2 linked regions of the Homo sapiens genome follow. The protein of the gene in region 1 purifies or fractionates together with the protein of each later gene. This does not show direct contact. Each region holds a gene or a part of one and is shown on either strand. Other genes may lie near its edges. The genes, in order: OGDH and DLAT.

Region 1 (10,469 bases):
CAGTGAAACCCCGTCTCTACTAAAAAATACAAAAAAAAAAAATTAGCCGGGCATGGTGGCGGGCACCTGTAGTCCCAGCTACTCAGGAGGCTGAGGTGGGAGAATGGCATGAACCCGGAAGGCGGAGGTTGCAGTGAGCTGAGATCGTGCCACTGCACTCCAGCACTCCAGCCTGGGCGACAGAGCGAGACTCCGTCTCAAAAAACCAAAAAACAAAAAATACAAAAATTAGCCAGGCATGGTGCAGACTCCGGTACTCTTAGCTACTCAGGAGGCTGAGGTGTGAGGATCACCGGATCACCTGAGCCCAGGAGGTTGAGGCTGCGGTGAGCTGTGATCATGCCACTGCACTCCAGCCTGGGGTGACAGAGTAAGACCGTGTCTCCAAAAAAAAAAAAAAAAAAATTTAGAAAAATACATATGATAAAATCTTCAGGAATTTGGGCTAGGCAAAGAGTTCTTCAACTCAACACCAAAAGCAATCTAACAAAAGATAAAATTGGTAAACCAGACCTCATCAAAATTATAAACTTTTGCTTTGCAAAAGACCCCGTTAAGAAGATGAAAAGGGGCTGAGCGCGGTGGCTCACGCCTGTAATCCCAGCACTTTGGGAGGCCAAGGGGGTGTCGATCACGAGGTCAGGAGATCCAGACCATCCTGGCTAACACAGTAAAAGCCCGTCTCTACTAAAAATACAAAAGAATTAGCCGGGCGTGGTGGCACGCGGCTGTAGTCCCAGCTACTTGGGAGGCTGAGAAAGGCTTGAACCGGGGAGGTGGAGGTTGCAGTGAGCCAAGATTGCACCACTGCACTCCAGCCTGGGCAACAGAGCAAGACTCCGTCTCAAACAAACAAACAAACAAAAAGATGAAAAGGGCTAGGAGCAGTGGCTCACGCCTGTAATCCCAGCACTCTGGGAGGCTGAGGTGGACAGATCGCGAGGTCAGGAGTTCGAGACCAGCCTGACCAACACGGTGAAACCCCGTCTCTACTAAAAATACAAAAATTAGCCAGGTGTGGTGGCAAGCGCCTGTAATCCCAGCTACTCAGGAGGCTGAGGCGGAAGAATCGCTTGAACCTGGGAGGCAGAGGTTGTAGAGATTACGCCACTGCACTCCAGCCTGGGGGACAGAACGAGACTCCATCTCAAAAACAAAACAAACAAACAAACAAAAAAAAAACCAAGATGAAAAGACATGCTGCTGACTAGGAGAAAATATCTGCAAACTACATATCCAACAAAGCAGTGGTATCTAGAATACATTAGGAATTCTCAAAGCTCAACAGTTAACAAAAACCGAACAATCTAATTACGAAATGAACAAAAGATATGAACAGACATTTCACCCGAGAGTATACAGGGGCCAGGCATGGTGGCTCATGCCTGAAATCCTAGCCTTTGGGAGGCTAAGACAGGAGGATCACTTGATCCCAGGAGTTCAAGACCAGCCTGGGCAACATAGCAAGATCCCATCTCTTCCAAAAAAAGAGAGAATAGACAGATGGCAAATAAGCACATGAAAAGATGTTCAACATCATTAGCCATCAGAAAAATGCAAATTACAACCACAAAGAGACATTACTACACATTTATTGGAATGGCTATAATAAAAAAAGTAACATCACCAAATGCTGGCAAGTATGTGGAGAAACAAGACCATACAGTGCCGGTGGGAATGTAAAATAGTACAATCACTCTGGAAAACAGTTTGGCTATTTGTTTAATAACTAAGCACGCACTACGACTTAGTGATTGTATTCCTGGGCATTTATCTTGGAGAAATGTCAATTTATGTTCAAATAAAAATCTGTACATGAAGGTTTGTAGCAGCTTTATTTGTAATAGCCAAAGAATGGAAACAGTAAAGATGTCTTTTAATGGATGAATAAACCAAATGTGGTACATCCATAGCCCAATAGCCCGGCTTCAATAAAAAGGAATGAAGTACCTTTTTTTTTTTTTTTTTGAGACAGGGTCTCACTCTGTCACTCATGCTGGAGTGCAGTGGCGCGATCTCGGCTCACCGCAGCCACCACAGCCTAGGCTCAAGCGATCCTCCCACCTCAGCTTCCTGAGTAGCTGGGATTACAGGAACACACCACTGCGCCTGGCTAATTTTTTTTTTTTTTTTTTTTTGTAGAGACGAGGTCTCACTATGTTCCTCAGACTCGAACTCCTGGGGCTCAAGCGATCTGCCTGCCTCAGCCTCCCAAAGTTGCTAGGATTACAGGCGTAAGCCACTGCGCCTGGCCAAGGAATGAACTACCCATAACACGCAACAACCTGGATGATTCTCCAGGGAATTAAGCTGACTGGAAAAAACCAATCCCAAAAGGCTCTATGAATCCTTTTATTTGGCATTCTTGACATGCCAAAATTAGGGAAATGAAGAACAGATTAGTGGTTACCAGGAGTTGAAGGACTGGGAATGGGAGGAATGTGGGTGTGGCTATAAAAAAGCAATGGAAGGGATCCTTGTGATGACGGGAATATTCTGTATCTTGAATTTTATTAATGTCAATATCTGGCTGTGATATTTACTATAGTTTTGCACAATGTTAGAGAAGTGGGAAAGGAACACAGGATCTCTCTGTACTATTTATTATGACTGCATAGAATAAATTTTTATGTACAATTTCTTAAAATTTTACTGTTTTCAAAATGAATTTCTCAATAATTTGTACAATGATCTCAAAAATTACCTAAAAATCTAAAAAGTAGATGATACTGTAGTTTTTTCTTTCCTTTTTTTTTTGAGATGGAGTCTTGCTCTGTCGCTCAGGCTGTAGTGCCGTGGCGCCATCTCGACTCGCTGCAACCTCTGCCTCCTGCGTTCAAGCGATTCTCCTGCCTCAGCCTCCTGCTGAGGCTGGAGGAGCTCAGCCTGTAGCTGAGACTACAGGCCCACGCCACCATGCCCTGCTAACTTTTGTATTTTTAGTAGAGACAGGGTTTCACCATGTTGGCCAGGCTGGTCTCAAACTCCCAACCTCAGGGGATCCACCCACCTCGGCCTCCCAAAGTGCTAGGATTACAGGCGTGAGCCACTGCGCCCGGCCTTTTTTTTTGAGACAGGATCTCACTGTGTCACCCAGGCTAGAGTGCAGTGGGGCAATAATGGCTCACTGCAGCTTGGACCTCCCTGGCTCATGCCATCCTCCCGCCTCAGCCTCCTGAGTAGTTGCGACTACAAGTATATGTGGTATATGCCACCATATCCGGATAATTTTATTTTTTGTAGACGCCGGGTATCACTTTGGTTGCTCAGGCTGGTCTCCTTGAACTGAGCTCAAGGGATCTTCCTTTCACACTCCCAAAGTGTGGGGATTACAAACGTGAGCCACCACGACTGGCCGAAATTGTGCACGTCAAATGGGTGAATCGTATGGTATGTGAATTTTATCTCAATAAAGATGTTATTTAAAGGGAAAAAGTAACTGAAATGTGAAAAGTGCGCTTAAAAAAAATAATGAGGGGCCGGGCGCAGTGGCTCACGCCTGTAATCCCAGCACTTTGGGGGCCGAGGCGGGCGGATCACCTGAGGTCAGGAGTTCGAGAATAGCCTGGCCAAGGTGGTGAAAACCCGTCTCTACTAAAAATACAAAAATTAGCCGGGCGTGATGGCGCGTGCCTGTAATATCAGCTACTTGGGAGGCTGAGGCAGGAGAATCACTTGAACCCAGGAAGGCAGAGGTTGCAGTGAGCCGAGATCGCGCCACAGCACTCCAGCCTGGGCGACAGAGACTCCATCTCAAACAAGACAACAACAACAAAAAATGAGCATACAGTGATCTTTATTCAACTTCCCAAGATCCAGTCCTCAGCTAATTTACAAAACTACAATAGTGTTACATACTCTCCTAGGTCTACACGGCAAAGTACAGTTTGACTGTTGCAACTAGTGCTGCCTTACAAAAAAAGGCTTTATCCCATGCCACCCATCCTAAACCCAGCTGTTCAGAGCAGTGTACCTGGAAATCAGCCTCAAAGTACGGACTGCAAGACAAGGCACAAGGAAACCCTAACACGAAGTCCTATGTTCTGGGCAAAGGGATGGGGATGGCAGGTGGGACGCACCCAGGTCAGGGCGAGGGCGCGGCAAGTTTTCTATTAAATCTCAGTAGATTACAACTCATATCCAATGTCTGATATATTTTCGAGGGAAAATGGTGCTTGAAAGATGTTTCTACGAGAAATAAGCTTCATCTCGGTCAATCTGTTCGACCCAACTTCTGGCAGCAGGTGTGGGGGCGGCGCCAAGGTCTGCGCGGTAATCCAAACAGGCAGTCCCACCCAGGGCCACCCCAAAGCCAGATGCTCCGACGCAACTCGAGCAGGCCACACTGTCTTTCGGACAAAGCGACGCGGTCCTCACAGGCGGGAAGGAGAGTGCGTCCCGGTCGGGAAGGACGCCGTCGGAGAGCGGCCTAACCACGTGACGCCCGCGGCGACCTTGGGGGTCACCCCTGCGGACGCACCGCCCTCTCCCTCACATCCGCCGCCGCGCCCGCCCCCCGCTCGCCCACCGCCAATGGCGCGTCGCTCCGCGCCCCGCGCGACCTCGGAGCCCGCCCGTACCCGCCAATCTCCGCCCGCCGGGCAGGCCCCGCGGCTCCATTGGCTGCCACGGCCATCCATCAGGTCCCGTCCCTCCTACCACCCTCCGTGAGCCCCACTCCATCCAGCTCCACTCCCCTGTCACCGCGGCGCCCGCAGCACCAAGGGCGCGGCGGCCTCCCCCTTTACCGCGATCTCCAACCCCGGGCCGCCAAGCGCCGCGACACCCGGCACTGGGACGGGCGCGGCGACAGCGCACGGTTACCTGTCTCCGGCTCAGCTCCACCCGAATGAGGCGCCGACACCCCACTCCGGGGCTCCAAACTCTCGGCCCCGCCCCGGCGTATGGCGTCAACACGTAGCCCTCCCCTGGAGAAGAATGCCCTCCCCTCTTACAGAGGACCGATTCGTGACGTCACAGAGCCGCGCCGGGCGTCACAGCGCCGACTGCGCAGTTGCAGAAGCCAGGGCCAGCTGGAGCCCAGCTGTTTGCTCCGCTAGAGAGATGAGGTTGTCTATGGACTTCCAGCGGCTTCTGCTATCATAAATAATTTCTGAAAGTAAGATATCTCTAGCGCCTGGTAGGAACCTATCAAGAGATAGTTGGGTTGATGTGAAACTTAGCGCACAAAAATAAACAATTTGAATAACAGAATCTCCGTTTTTGAGATTGTCCTGGGTCAGGCTTTGTGACAAGCGCTTCACCGGCGCTATTGTGTAACAATCTGTGAGACAGGTGTTCCTATCCCCGGTCTACAAATGACAGTTGGCAGTGCTGGGATCTTGCCCGGGATCTTGCCTGGGTTTTCTTGACTTTAGAGCTACCTATCAAAGATAAAACGTGGCTAATTAACCTGTCACAACCTGTTGATTGTAAGATGTTCCCTATTTTAAAGTATTAAAATTTGGGGAAAGGCCGGGCGCGGTGGCTCACGCCTGTAATCCCAGTACTTTGGGAGGCCGAAGCGGGCGGATCACTTGAGGTCAGGAGTTCGAGACCAGCTTGACCAACATGGGGAAACCCCGTCTCTACTAAAAATACAAAAATTAGCTGGGCGTGGTGGCGATCCCAGCTACTCGGGAGGCTGAGGCAGGAGAGTCGCTAGAACCCGGGAGACGGAGGTTGCGGTGTGCCGAGATCGTGCCATTGCACTCCAGCCTGGGCAACAAGAGCGAAAATCCGTCTCAAAAAACAAACAAAAAAAGGGGGCGTATAAGTGCTTATTATAGAACAAAGTTAGGGTAATGTATGTGACAAGGATCTAGAGACTGGAAGAGGTGAAGAGACCAAGGAACAAACTTCTGTATTCTTTTTTCCTTTTTTTTTTTTAAATAAATTACGGTAAAAATGTATGTACTAAACATTTGCAGCTGGGTGCAGTGGCTCACGCTTGTAATCCCAGCACTTCGGGAGGTGGAGGCGGGAGGATCGCTTGAGCTCAGGAGTTCCAGATCAGCCTGGGGAACAGAGCAAGATCTCATTTCTACTAAAAAATCAAGAAAATTAGCCAGGTGTAGTGGCACTCACCTGTAGTCTCAGCTAATTGGGAGGCTGAGGCAGGAGGATCTCTTGAGCCTGAGAGATTGAGGCTGCAGTGAGCTATGATTGTACCACTGCACTCCAGCCTGGGCCAGAGAGCAAGATACTGTCTTTTTTTTTTTAATGCCATTTTAACCATTTTTAGGTGTATAACTCAGTGGCATTAATTACATTCACAATATTATGCAACCGTCACCACTCAATTTCCAAAACTTTTTCATCACCTGAAACAGCAACTCTGTAACCATTAAGCAATAACTTCCTATTTCCCCTTCTCCTCCTGTCCTTCTCTCCTTTGGTAACCTCTATTATACGGTCTCTATACATTTGATTACTCAATTACTTTATGTGGGTGAAATCATAATGTATATGTCCTTTTGTGTCCACCTTATTTCATTGAGCATGAGGTTGTCAAGGTTTATCTGTGTTGTAGCATGGGTCAGAACTTCATTTCTTTTTTTTTTTTTTGAGACAGGATCTCCCTCGGTTTCAGGCTGGAGGGCAGTGGTGCCATCTCAGCTCACTGCAATCTCTGCCACCCAGGTTCAAGTGATTCTGATGCCTCAGCCTCCCAAGTAGCTGGGACTACTGGCACGCTCCACCATGCCTGGCTAATATTTTTTTCTTTTTCTTTCTTTCTTTTTTTATTTTTGAGATGGTGTTTCGTTCTTGTTGCCCAGGCTGGAGTGCAGTGGTGTCATCTCGGCTCACTGCAACCTCTGCCTTGTAGATTCAAGCAATTCTCCTGCCTCAGCCTCTCAAGTAGCTGGGATTATAAGCGCCCGCCACTACGCCCAGCTTATTTTGTATTTTTAGTAGCGATGGGGTTTCACCATGTTGGCCAGGCTGGTCTTGAACTCTTGACCTCAAGTGATCCACCCACCTCGACCTCCCAAAGTGCTGGGATTACAGGCATGAGCCCCCATGCCTGGCCAGAACTTCATTTCTTTTTATGGCTGAATAATATTCCATTGTATGTATATACCACATTTTGTTTATTTATTCATCTATTGATGGACACTTGGTTATTTCTGCTTTTTTGCTGTTTTGAATAATGTTGCAATGAACATTGGCTTATAAATGTTTGAGCCCATTGTGGTACCAAGCAGTGGGCTCACTGCTAGATGCACATAGAAGCCAATACTATGTCATCACCTTTTGAGAAAAGGCTTTATCGTAAGGTCGACCAGCAGGGAAACCAGAGGCAATACTCAAATTTGTCTCCCCAAGATGGAATCTGGGGGCAGGTTTTATAGGCAGAAGGCAACTATGAGGGAGATGGGAAAATACAACAAGGTGTGATCTGTTTGGGTCATGCAAAGGGGCAATGCTGGATCTTTGGCTTTTAAGTTCATATTGCAGCAAAACAAGGCGCCCCATGCTTCCTAATTTGGTGTCCATTCCTCCATTTGAGTGGTTAAGTCCTGCCTGTGGTTGACTTTTGTGTTCCCACCGACACCAGGGTCAGCTATCAGGCACACTTTGTTCATCTGGGCATACTTAGGTTACGTGACTTGCAGCCTGGGGATCTATTGTAACTGAAAAACAACTCATCATTTTGTTACTGATAAAAGTTGAACCAGGCTGGGCACAATGGCTCACACCTGTAATCCCAGCACTGTGGGAGACTGAGGTGGGTGGATCACCCGAGGTCAGGAGTTCAAGACCAGCCTGGCCAGCAGGGCGAAACCCCCATCTCTACTAAAAATACAAAAAAATTAGCCAGGCTGGTGGTGGGTGCCTGTAATCCCAGCTACTTGGGAGGCTGAGGCAGGAGAATCGTTTGAACTCGGGAGCCGGAGGTTGCAGTGAGCCAAAACCGCTCCTTTGCACTCCAACCTGGGCAAGAAGAACAAAACTCCATCTCAAAAAAAAAAAAAAAAAAAAAAACTGAATCAGATTCAACTGGTCCTGTGGTTACACCTGTTTATAATTCTTTTGCCTGTATACCTGGGAGTGTAATTTCTGAGTTATATGGGAATTCTGTCTAGCTTTTTCAGGAAGTGATAAATTCCCACAGTGACCGCACCTTTTTTGTTTGTTTGTTTTTGAGACAAGGTGTCAGGTTGGAGTGCAGTAGTGTGATCACAGCTCACTGCAGCCTCAACCTCCGGGGCTCAAGTGATCCTCTCAGCTCACGCTCCTGAGTAGCTGGGACAATGGGCATGCACAACCAGGCTAGGCTAATTTTTTCTGTTTTTTGTAGAGACAGGATCTTGCTGTGTTGCCCAGGCTGGTCTCGAAGTCCTGGCCTCAAGCGATCCTGCTGCCTCAGCCTCCCATAGTGTTGAGATTACAGGTCTGTCTCTATTTTTTTTTTTTACTGTCTCTATTTTTAAAAAAATTACTATCGGTCAGTCATGATGCCTCACTCCTGTAATCCCAGCACTTTCAGAGGCCAAAGTAGGAGGATTATCAGCCTGAGCAACATAGTGAGACTTTGTCTCTCCAAAAAAAAAAAATTAGGAGTGGTGACACATGCCTGTAGTCCTACCTATTTGGAACGCTGGGACAGTAGGATTGCTTGAGCCCAGGAGCTTGAGGTTGCAGTGAGCTATGATCATGCCACAGAACTCTAGCCTGGGCACAGAGCAAGACCCTGTTCCCCCACCTCCCCACTCCCCAACCAAAAAAATTTGGTGAGGTGTAGTGGCTTATGCCTGTAATCCCACCACTTTGGGAGGCTGAGTCAGGAGGATTGCTTGAGGCTAGGAGTTCAAGATCAGCTGGGCAACATAGCAAGACCCCATCTCTAAAAAAAATTTATTACAGCCAACTATAATAAATAGGTATGAGGTGGTATCTCATTGTGGTTTAGAAAGTATTATTATTTTTTAGAGGTAGAGTCTCACTCTGCCACCTAGTCTGGAGTGCATGAGCACAATCAGAGATCACTGCAGCCTTGAACTCCTGGGCTGGGACTGCAAGTGTGGGCCACCACGGCTCATTGTGGTTTTGATTTGCATTTCCCTAGTGGCTAATGATGTTGAGCATATTTTCATGTGGTGCTTGTCCATTTGTATATTTTCTTCAGAGAGCTGTCCATTTGAGTCATTTGCCCATTTTTAAATTGGGTTTTCTTGTTGTTATAGGAGTTCTTTATATATTCTGGATATTAAATCTAATCAGATATATGATTTGCAGATATTTTCTCCCATTTTGTAGGTTTTCATTTCTTTTTTTTTGTTTGTTTGCTTGTTTTGAGACAGGGTCTTACTCTGTTCCCTAGGCTGGAGTGCAGTGGTGTGTGATCATGGCTCACCGCAGGCTTGATCTCCTAGGCTCAAGTGATCCTCTTGCCTCAGCCTCCTGAGTAGCTGGAACCATACCACAGGTGCACACCACCACGCCCAGCTAATATTGTTATTTTATATATTTATGTTTTTTTGAGACAGAGTCTCGTTCTGTCACCAGGCTGGAGTGCAGTGGTGCGATCTTGGCTCACTGCAACCTCTGCCTCCTGGGTTAAAGCGATTCTCCTGCCTCAGCCTCCTGAGTAGCTGGGACTACAGGCATGTGCCACCACACCCAGCTAATTTTTGTATTTTTAGTAGAGACGGTGTTTCACCATGTTGGCCAGGATGGTCTCGATCTCTTCACCTCGTGATCCGCCCTCCTCGGCCTCCCAAAGTGTTGGGATTACAGGCGTGAGCCACCGCACCTGGCCAATATTGTTATTTTTTGTAGAGACAGGGTCTTGCTTTGTTGCCCTGGCTGGTCTTGCACTCCTGGCCTCAAGAGATCCTCCCACCTCAGCCTCTCAAATGTGCCAGGCCTCTCTTTATCTCTTGACAATGTCCTTTGATGAACAAAAGTTTTTAATTTTGTTGTTGTTGTTCCTAAGGAGTTTATCTGGGCTGTCTTGGGGGTGGAGAGGACTCTGTACCTAGAGAAGGTATTGGGTTTCTTGTTAACAAAGTGTGGCTCATGCTGGCATGGCAGGACTGGTGGGGCAGAAAGAACTTGATAGTGAAGTGGTGGAATTGATTGCTGACTGGCAGCACTTTCTGACGCAGTCTCCTTCATCTTCCTCATCTGGATGGAATGCGCCTGGCACTCTGTCACCAGGTGGTGATGTCCACCAGGTCAGGGCCCATGTTCCCAGTGCAGGTTTTGGGTGCCACTTGGAGGATAGTGCAGCCAGATGCCCAAACTCTTCACCTGAAGAGGGCGGGTTCTCCAACACCTGCCCACTGGAGACAGTTTCCACTGAAGGCTTCTTCAGCTGAGATACAAAGTGCCAGAGGCTCAAAGATTCGCATGGGGTAGAGGGTTGGTGTGCAGCTTTTGGGGGTGGTCAGGCAACACCCCCACCACCTTGTGTTCTTGATGTGTGCCCCAGGCCTTCCTGGCTTCTCTTAGTGCTAGCC
Region 2 (9,785 bases), on another chromosome or scaffold:
TTAATGGTTGTGAGGTTTAAATAAGTTAACCAGTGCCTGTACAGAGAAAGCATATCTAGGTATTAGCTATAATGATAATAATATTTTTGTTATTAAATAAGATGATTTGAGTGCTAAGAAAGAAAGAAACTCAGTGATATACTAGTGAGTGAAAGGGTGAATGGATATATGTGCAGTCATGACTACTTTTAGACAGGTTGGTTGGGAGATCTTTTTGATGAGGTGACATTTGATTTGTTTTGAAAGATAAGAAGGAGGCAGCTTGAGCCAACCATGTGAAGAACTGGGGAAAGATCATTTTGGATAGAGAGACTAGCTGTACACAGTCTGAAATGGGAAAGAGTTTAGCATGTCTGAGGAACATAAAAGAGGCCAGTGTTGGCCAGGCGCAATGGCTCACGCCTGTAATCCCAGCACTTTGGGAGGCCGAGGCAGGTGGATCACAGGTCAGGAGATGGAGACCATCCTGGCTAACACGGTGAAACCTCGTCTCTACTAAAAATACAAAAAAATTAGCTGGGCATGGTGGCAGGCGCCTGTGGTCCCAGCTACTCGGGAGGCTGAGGCAGGAGAATGGCGTGAACCTGGGAGGCCAAACTTGCAGTGAGCCGAGATAGTGCCACTGCACTCCAGCCTGGGCGACAGAGCAAGACTCCGTCTCAAAGAAAAAAAAAAAAGGCCAGTGTTAATGAAGCATAATGAGCAAAGGGTCTAGTAGGAGATGAGATTGGAAAAAAACAGGGATGAGAACATAAATGACCTTATAGATTATGGTAAAGAGTTTGAATTTTATTTAAAGTACTTGAGGAAGCCATTGAGAAATTTAAGCAAAGAAGTGAAATAAAATGATTATGTTTTGAAAAGATCATTTTGGTTGCTCCATGGAAATGGATGAAACGTTTATATAGTTTATGTTTGACAAGATCCCTACTTTTTGTTACCCATAGTCCAGTGTTGTTCCCTTTATACCATATTGCTTTATGATGGCCTGTTGTGCCGCCCAAGAGAGATAGGGAAAAGGGTTTACAAGGTTTCAACTAACTCCTAAGTCAGGAAATTCTTGTGGGTGGCTGAAGCTTAGCATAAGGCAGGTGGTACTATGGATTTCCTCCTCTTGAGGGACTGTGGTGTCTAGATCAGCCTTGGTTGTAAGGGGAGGTTATGGTTTCTGTCTTTTACAAAGGAGAGAAATCTAATAGGGGTACTACCACCTCTGTTCTAGAGCTCCTAGTGAGGATAAATACAATCCTAGCCAACTCAGTTTTCGTAATGAAGGAAAGGAATTGGGAAGAACTACACACAACAAGAGTCCTTTTTAAAGTCTGCCTTGGGGGAAGATGAATCAGTTTGACCAAATTTTTCCTAGAAGTGGGCCAGTGTAAAAGGTATTCTATAATAATAACTAAATTCTGAATCTCCGTAGAATTAAAGGTCAAGATTATCTACTTGGGTCCAAAATTAAACCTAAGAGGCTGTAGGTGGGAGGAGGGAGGAAATTGAATATAAGTAAAATTAAACCTACTGAGAGAACTTTGAAGATCCTTCCTCATGTGTGACATTGCACCTTTTTCCTTCATTTCCTTTAACACGGGCCAGTTTAGAGCCTTGGCTACTGTGAAAAAGCTATGAGTCATAGAGACCACATAAGGAATGAATGATTCTAAAGATAAGATAATTGCAGTAAAGAGTTATTCGTGCTATTTTGGGGTGAAAAAATCGACTTGATTTGTCAAAACAATTATTGTTATACCTGTAAATTCTGTATAAAAGGAATTCTTTATGGTCACATAAATCCAGAACCCAAATGAAATCTATTTCACGGCTTAGGAATGGTTTTTTGGAGCTAACCAGGAGGAGGCAGCTAGTTTCCCTTTTGGAGATATAAACTGTGCTCGGCATTATCCTTATGCCACATTTCCCAATTTAAAAGTAAGGAAGATGAAAAAAATTAAGTACAACTTGGATAAAACTCTAAAAGAGAAATACATAAAGGAATATTTGCAGTAGTTAAAAAGAAAAGACCCACTCCAGATCACACACTGGTACTCTGTGTGGATTAAAATTAATAGTTGACAAAAGCTGGTATTTGTAGGTAGCACCTTAAGGGGTAGGGTTAAGGCTGTGAACCTTTCAGAATGTTTTTGGTAGTAAACCCTTAGGAGCTTGCAGTTTAGGATCACAGCGTTGATCTCCTTGGGGAACCAATGGTATGTCATCATGTATGTGATATTTATGTCTCTTACAGGGACAGGACCAGATGGTAGAATCACCAAGAAGGATATCGACTCTTTTGTGCCTAGTAAAGTTGCTCCTGTGAGTTATGTGTAGCTCTTACTTTTTTTGCAGTTTGTCTCTACAGCCTGTTAGACCATTTCATACATTATTTATGAACGAAATAGCTCAACCAAGATTGTTTTCTTCTAATTTCAGTGGTTTAATAATACAGTCATCCCTCGGTACCCATGAGAGGTTGGTTCCAGGAGCCCCCTTGTATACCAAAATTCGCAAATGCTTAAGTCTCTTATATAAAATAGTGTAGTATTTGTATATAACTTACCCACATCCTCTCAAATACTTTAAATCATCTCTAGATTACTTATAATATTAAATACAAGGTAAATACTATGTAAATAGTTGTTATATTTTATTGCTTAGGAAATAATAATAAGGACAAAAAGTCTGTACTTGTGCAGTTCAGATGCAACCATCTGTTTTTTTCTGGAATATTTTTGATTTGCCTTTGGTTGAATCCAGTGATGCAGAACTTATGGATATGGAGGGCCAAGTGTATTTAGATATTTGTGTGCTATCATTTATATACAAGATCAAAGATGATATACTACATTGACATGTATTCCACATTATGTTTTGAGCTAGTTAATCGGTTTTTGCTTTGAAATAAAAGATTTGTTCTTTTTTTCTTTTTCAAAATATTTTAAAGTACAGTTGAATGAGTTGTTTTTGGTGTTTGGTTTTTTTTGTTTGTTTGTTTTTGAGACAGTCTCACTCTGTCGCCCAGGCTGGAGTGCAGTGGCGCGATCTTGGCTCATTGCAACCTCTGCCTCCTGGATTCAGGCGATTCTCATGCCCCAGCCTCCCAGGTGGCTGGGACTACAGGTGCATGCCATCACACCTGGCTAATTTTCGTATGTTTAGTAGAGACAGGGTTTCGCCATGTTGGCCAGCCTGGTCACGAACTCCTGGCCTCAAGTGAGTCATTGTGAGGCTCAAGTGAGCCTCCCAACCCCCTTTTCTTAACATTGTTTAGGATAATGGATTAGCTTGTTTATACTTATTTATTATTCCTTGCAACTTAAGAATGCTTCCATTGCTTTTCTTGAACATAATTTTGCAAAAACAAAATTATTTTGACACAAACTGGTCATTGAACATACTCTGATACAAAGAAAAATGACACTTAAAACATGACTTCAGAATTCTAAGTAAAAAAATTAAAACTCTTAAAACAAGCAGAAGTCTCTTTTGCTCACTGGGGACAGAAATAGGTATTCTATAAAGCTTAGTTTTTAGACTGGACATGGTGGCTCATGCTTGTAACCCCAGCACTTTGGGAAGCCAAGGTGGGTGGATCACTTGAGCCCAGGCATTTGAGACCAGCCAGGGCAACGTGGCTAATTTCCGTCTCTACTAGAAATCCAAAAAAATTAGCTGGGCATGTTGGCGTGCACCTGTAGTCCCAGCTACTCTAGGGGCTGAGATGGGAGGATTGCTTGAGCCCAGGAGGTTGAGGCTGCAGTGAACCATGATTGAGCCACTGCATTCTAGCCTGGGTGACAGAGCAAGACTCTGTCTCAAAAGACAAAAAAAAAAAACTGCATAGTCACTGGCAGTCTTTCCCAGGTACTTACGCTAAGATTGAATCACAGTTACTAAGAGCTTTTTCTTTCCTCCCATAGGCTCCGGCAGCTGTTGTGCCTCCCACAGGTCCTGGAATGGCACCAGTTCCTACAGGTGTCTTCACAGATATCCCAATCAGCAACATTCGTCGGGTAAGAGAATTACCATCATCTGGAATCAGCTGTTAGGGGCATCTTTAGGTTGTTTAGTTGCTTCCATAGTTTTTAACACATTAACAGAGGCTTTTTAAGTTGGGAATATTGGATGATTACTTTAAGGGAAGTTTTGGCCAACTGAATACTTGAATCACTTTGTTCCTATTAGAAGGGCCAGGCGCAGTAGCTCATGCCTGTAATCCCAGCACTTTGGGAGGCCAAAGCGGGCAGATCACAAGGTCCAGACTTCGAGACCAGCCTGGCCAACATAGTGAAACACCCCGTCTCTACTAAAGATACAAAAATTAGCCGGGCATGGTGGCACATGCCTGTAGTCCCAAGTACTCGGGACGCTGAGGCAGGAGAATTGCTTGAACTTGGGAAATGGAGGTTGTGGTGAGCCGAGATCGCACCACCGCACTCCAGCCTGGGCAACATAGCGAGACTCCATCTCAAAAAAAAAAAAAAATCTAGGAGGTGTTATATTATGGCGGAGTCCTCCATCTTTCAATTATAATAATGCTTGAGGTAAGTATTAGCAGAGAGTAAGGTGAAGAGACAAACAGAGCCCTAAATTAGTTAAGGTCTTAACTCAAGATAATTGATTTTTTAAATCTCTTTGGTTTCAGGTTATTGCACAGCGATTAATGCAATCAAAGCAAACCATACCTCATTATTACCTTTCTATCGATGTAAATATGGGAGAAGTTTTGTTGGTACGGAAAGAACTTAATAAGGTAAAAGTTCTGAAAATTCCAACTTTCTAAGTTATAAAAATTTTGTCTTTCCCCACCAAACATTTATATTTTTGTCCATATATTTTGTTACAATATATCAGTTGGTGGTTACTTTCTTGATCTTGTCCTTTGAAGCACAAGATTTTAAATATTGGTTATGTCCACTTTTATCAATTTTTTTCTTCTGTGCTTTTGGTATTATATCTAAGAAACTATTACCTAGTCTAAGGTCATGAAGATTTATACTTTTGTTTCCTTGTAACAGTTTTATACTTTTAGTTCTTATATTCAGGTCTTTGCTCTATTTTGAGTTAATTTTTTATAGGTGGTGTGAGATAGGAATCCAACCATTGTTTTGCATGTGGACATTTATTCTTTCATCCCAGCACCATCTTTCCCCATCGAATTGTCTTGGTATCCTTGTCAAAATTAATCATATATGTGAGAATTTTATTTCCAGATTTTTTTTTTTTTGTAGATCTTGTTATTTTTTGTTTTGTTTTGTTTTATTATACTTTAAGTTCTGGGATACATGTGCAGAACGTGCAGGTTTGTTACATAGGTATACACGTGCCATGGTGGTTTGCTGCACCCACCAACCCATCATCTACATTAGGTATTTCTCCTAATGCTATCCCTCCCCTTAGCCCCCCACCCCCCTACAGGTCCTGGTGTGTGATGTTTCCCTCCCTGTGTCCATGTGTTCTCATTGTTCAACTCCCACTTACAAGTGAGAACATGCGGTGTTTGGTTTTCTGTTCCTGTGTTAGTTTGCTGAGAATGATGGTTTCCAGCTTCATCCATGTCCCTGCAAAGGACACAAACTCATCCTTTTTTTTATGGCTGCATAGTATTCCATGGTGTGTATGTGCCACATTTTCTTTATCCAGTCTATCATTGATGGGCATTTGGCTTGGTTCCAAGTCTTTGCTATTGGGAACAGTGCTGCAGTAAACATATGTGTGCATGTGTCTTTATAGTAGAATGGTTTATAATCCTTTGGGTCTATACCCAGTAATGGGATTTCTGGGTCAAATGGTATTTCTGGTTCTAGATCCTTGAGGAACCGCCACACTGTCTTCCACAATGGGTTGAACTAATTTACACTCCTACCAACAGTGTAAAAGCGTTCCTATTTCTCCACATTCCAGCATCTGTTGTTTCCTGACTTTTTAGTGATCGCCATTGTAACTGGCGTGAGATGGTAACTCACTGTGGTTTTGATTTGCATTTCTTTAATGACCAGTGATGATGAGCTTTTTTTCATGTTTGTTGGCCACATAAATGTCTTCTTTTGAGAAGTGTCTGTTCATATCCTTTGCCCACTTTTTGATGGGGTCATTTGTTTTTTTCTTGTAAATTTGTTTAAGTTCCTTATAGATTCTGGATATTAGCCCTTTGTTAGATGGATAGATTTCAAAAATTTTCTCCCATTCTGTAGGTTGCCTGTTCACTCTGATGATAGTTTCTTTTGCTGTGCAGAAGCTCTTTAGTTTAATTCGACCCCATTTGTCTATTTTGGCTTTTGTTGCCATTGCTTTTGTTGTTTTAGTCATGAAGTCTTTGCCCATGCCTGTGTCCTGAATGGTATTGCCTAGGTTTTCTTCTAGGGTTTTTATGGTTTTAGGTCTTACGTTTAAGTCTTTAATCCATCTTCAGTTATTTTTTGTATAAGGTGTAAGGAAGGAGTCCAGTTTCAGTTTTCTACATATGGCTAGCCAGTTTTCCCAACATCATTGATTAAATAGGGAATCCTTTCCCCATTGCTTGTTGTTGTCAGGTTTGTCAAAAATCAGATGGTTGTAAATGTGTGGCATTATGTCTGAGGCTTCTGTTCTGTTCCATTGGTCTATATATCTGTTTTGGTACCAGTACCATGCTGTTTTGGTTACTGTAGCCTTATAGTATAGTTTGAAGTCAGGTAGCATGATGCCTCCAGCTTTGTTCTTTTTGCTTAGGATTGTCTTGGCTATACGGGCCCTTTTTTGGTTCCATATGAAATTTAAAGTAGTTTTTTTCTAATTCTGTGAAGAAAGTCAATGGTTGCTTGATGAAGATAGCATTGAATTTATAAATTACTTTGGGCAGTATGTCCATTTTCACGATATTGATTCTTCCTATGCATGAGCATGGAATGCTTTTCCATTTGTTTTTGTGTCCTCTCTTATTTCCTTGAGCAGTGGTTTGTAGTTCTCCTTGAAGAGGTCCTTCACATCCCTTGTAAGTTGTATTCCTAGGTATTCTATTCTTTTTATAGCAATTGTGAATAGGAATTCACTCACAATTTGGCTCTCTGTTTGTCTGTTATTGGCGTGTAGGAATGCTTGTGATTTTTGCACATTGATTTTGTATCCTGAGACTTCACTGAAGTTGCTTATCAGCTTAAGGAGATTTTGGACTGAGATGATGGGGTTTTCTAACTATACAATCATGTCATCTACAAACAGACAATTTGACTTCCTCTTTTTCTATTTGAATACTCTTTATTTCTTTCTCTTGCCTGATTGCCCTGGCCAGAACTTCCAATACTATGCTGAATAGGAGTGGTGAGAGAGAGCATCCTTGTCATGTGCCAATTTTTGAGACTGAGTCTCACTCTGTTGCCCAGACTGGGGTGCAGTGGCGTGATCTTGGCTTACTGCAACCTCCACCTTCCAGGTTCAAGCAATTCTCGTCCCTCAGCCTCCCGAGTAGCTGGGATTACAGGTATGAGCCACCAGGCATGGCTAATTTTTGTATTTTTAGTAGGGACAGGATTTCACCATGTTGGCCAGGCTGGTCTCGAACTCTTGACCTCAAATGATCCACCCACCTTGGCCTCCCAAAGTGCTGGAATTACAGCCATGAGCCCCCATGCCTGGCCTATTTCCAGGTTCTTAATTCCATTCCATTAATCTCTGTATACCCTTAATGTCAGTACCACAGTCTTGATTACTTTAGCTTTGTAATAAGTTGTAAAATCAGGAAACGTGAGTCATCTTTGTTCTTTTTTCTCAAGATTTTTTTTTTTTTTTTTTTTTTTTTTTAAAGACAGAGTCTTGCTCTGTCACCCAGGCTAGAGTGCAGTGGCGTGATCTTGGCTCACTGCCAGCTCTGCCTCCCGGGTTCATGCCATTCTCCTGCCTCAGCCTCCCAAGTAGCTGGGACTACAGACGCCCACCACCATGCCCGGCTAATTTTTTGTATTTTTAGTAGAGACGGGGTTTCACCGTGTTAGCCAGAATCAAGATTGTTTTGTCTGAGTCCCTTGCAATTCTAAGTGAATTTTAGGATTAGCTTGTAAATTTCTGCATTGAAGCCAGTTGACATTTTGATAAGGATTGATTGGATGTATCTGCTGATCAGTTTGGCAAGTGTTGCCATCCGAAGAATATAGTCTTTTCATCCATGAACATGTAGATGCCCCTGTATTAGTTAGGTGTTCTTCAGTCTCTTTCAACAGTTTTTTTATAGTTTTTCAGAGTGTAAGTTTTGCACTCTAAATTTGCATTTGTTAAACTTATTTCTAGGTATTTTATTCTTTTTGATACTACTCTAAGTGGAATTGTTTTCTAGATTTCATTTTCAGATTGTTCATTGCTACTATATAAAGGTATGATTGATTTTTTTTTTTTTTTAAGACTAGTCAGGTATACTAGTGAGAAGGGCGGAAGAGTAGAAAAGAAGTTAGATTTATAATGGACTCTGAGCAATCAATTGAGATAACAATTCATTTTTCTATATTGATCTTTTTTTTCATATACCTGCTGAAATGGGATCTATATTGACCTTGTATCCTGCAAACTTGCTGAAGTCATTTATTAGTTCTTACAGTTTTTTAGTGTATTTCTTAGGTTTTTCTGTAAACAAGATAATGTTATCTGCAAATAGAGATAATTTTACTTTTTTCATTTTGACCTGTATGCCTTTTATTTCCTTTCTTGCCTAATTGCTCTGGCTGGCGCCTCTAGGCAATGTTGAATAGGTGTAGCAGAAGTGAACATCTTGTCTTGTTCTCGATCTTTGGGAGAATAAGTCTTTGGTCATTAAATAGTTGTGAGGTTTCCATAGATCAGGTTGAGCAAGTTCCCTCCTGTTCCCAGTTAGTAAGAGTGTTTTGATCATGAAAAGGGGTATTGAATTTTATCAAATGCTCTTTCTGTGTCTGTTGAGATGATTATGTGTTTTTTGTCCTGTATTCTGTTAGGACATTATTACATTAATGGATTTTCAGATGTTAATGGAAATTTGCATTCTTGGGATAAATCAGATTTGATCATGGTGAATGATCCTTTTTATATATTGCTGGATTTTATTTGCTAGCGTTTTGTTGAAGATTTTTACATCTATATTCATAAGATATTAGTGTGTACTTTTTTTTTTTTTTCTTCTAATGTCGTCTTTGGTTTTGGTATCAGGCTAATCCCGGCCTTACAGAATGTGTGGGGAAGTGTTTCTTGCTCTTCTTTGATTTTTCTTTGAAAGAATTTGTGAGGAATTGATATTAATTCTTCTTTAATATTTGGTAGAATACTGACGAAGCCATTTGGGTCTAAGCTTTTCTACATGGGTAGTTTTTAAATTACCAGTTCAATCTCTTTGTTAGTTATAGGTCTATTCAGAGTTTTTGTTTCTCCTTGGTTCAGTTTTGGTAGCTTGTGTCTGTATGGTTGTTCATAGTATTCCCTATAATTCTTTTTACTTCTGTAAGGTAGATAGTAATGTCCCCTATTTCACTCCTAATTTTAGAAATTCTAGTCTTCTCTCCTCTTCTTGGTCAGTCTAACTAAACATTTATCATTGTGGTTGTCATTTGATTGATCTTTTCAAAGAACCAAATTTTGTTATTGTTGAGATGAATGAAAATGATGACATAACATACTGTAACTTATGGGATTATGCTAAAGCAGTGCTTAGCAGGAAACAGCTGTAAGAGTCCGCATTTAAAAAGATGAAAGAACCAATGTTTGGTTTCATTTCTTTCTTTCCACCTCAGGATATTTGTATATTCTCTTTCTCTTCCTCCTTTTCTCACGATTATACAGTTTTACTCTTT

The links.
Region 2: the proteins of OGDH (region 1) and DLAT fractionate together in Homo sapiens (co-fractionation; 2 studies listed by BioGRID). This does not show direct contact.

What each region holds. Positions count from the first base shown.
Region 1 is NC_000007.14:44,601,009-44,611,477, reverse strand, and holds the start of OGDH (2-oxoglutarate dehydrogenase complex component E1 isoform 1 precursor), read right to left. Parts: upstream 4,852-10,469; 5' UTR 4,825-4,851; intron 1-4,824. UniProt on the Homo sapiens protein: 2-oxoglutarate dehydrogenase (E1o) component of the 2-oxoglutarate dehydrogenase complex (OGDHC). Participates in the first step, rate limiting for the overall conversion of 2-oxoglutarate to succinyl-CoA and CO(2) catalyzed by the whole OGDHC.
Region 2 is NC_000011.10:112,041,221-112,051,005, forward strand, and holds part of DLAT (dihydrolipoyllysine-residue acetyltransferase component of pyruvate dehydrogenase complex, mitochondrial isoform 2 precursor), read left to right. Parts: intron 1-2,245; coding exon 2,246-2,313; intron 2,314-3,917; coding exon 3,918-4,010; intron 4,011-4,642; coding exon 4,643-4,750; intron 4,751-9,785.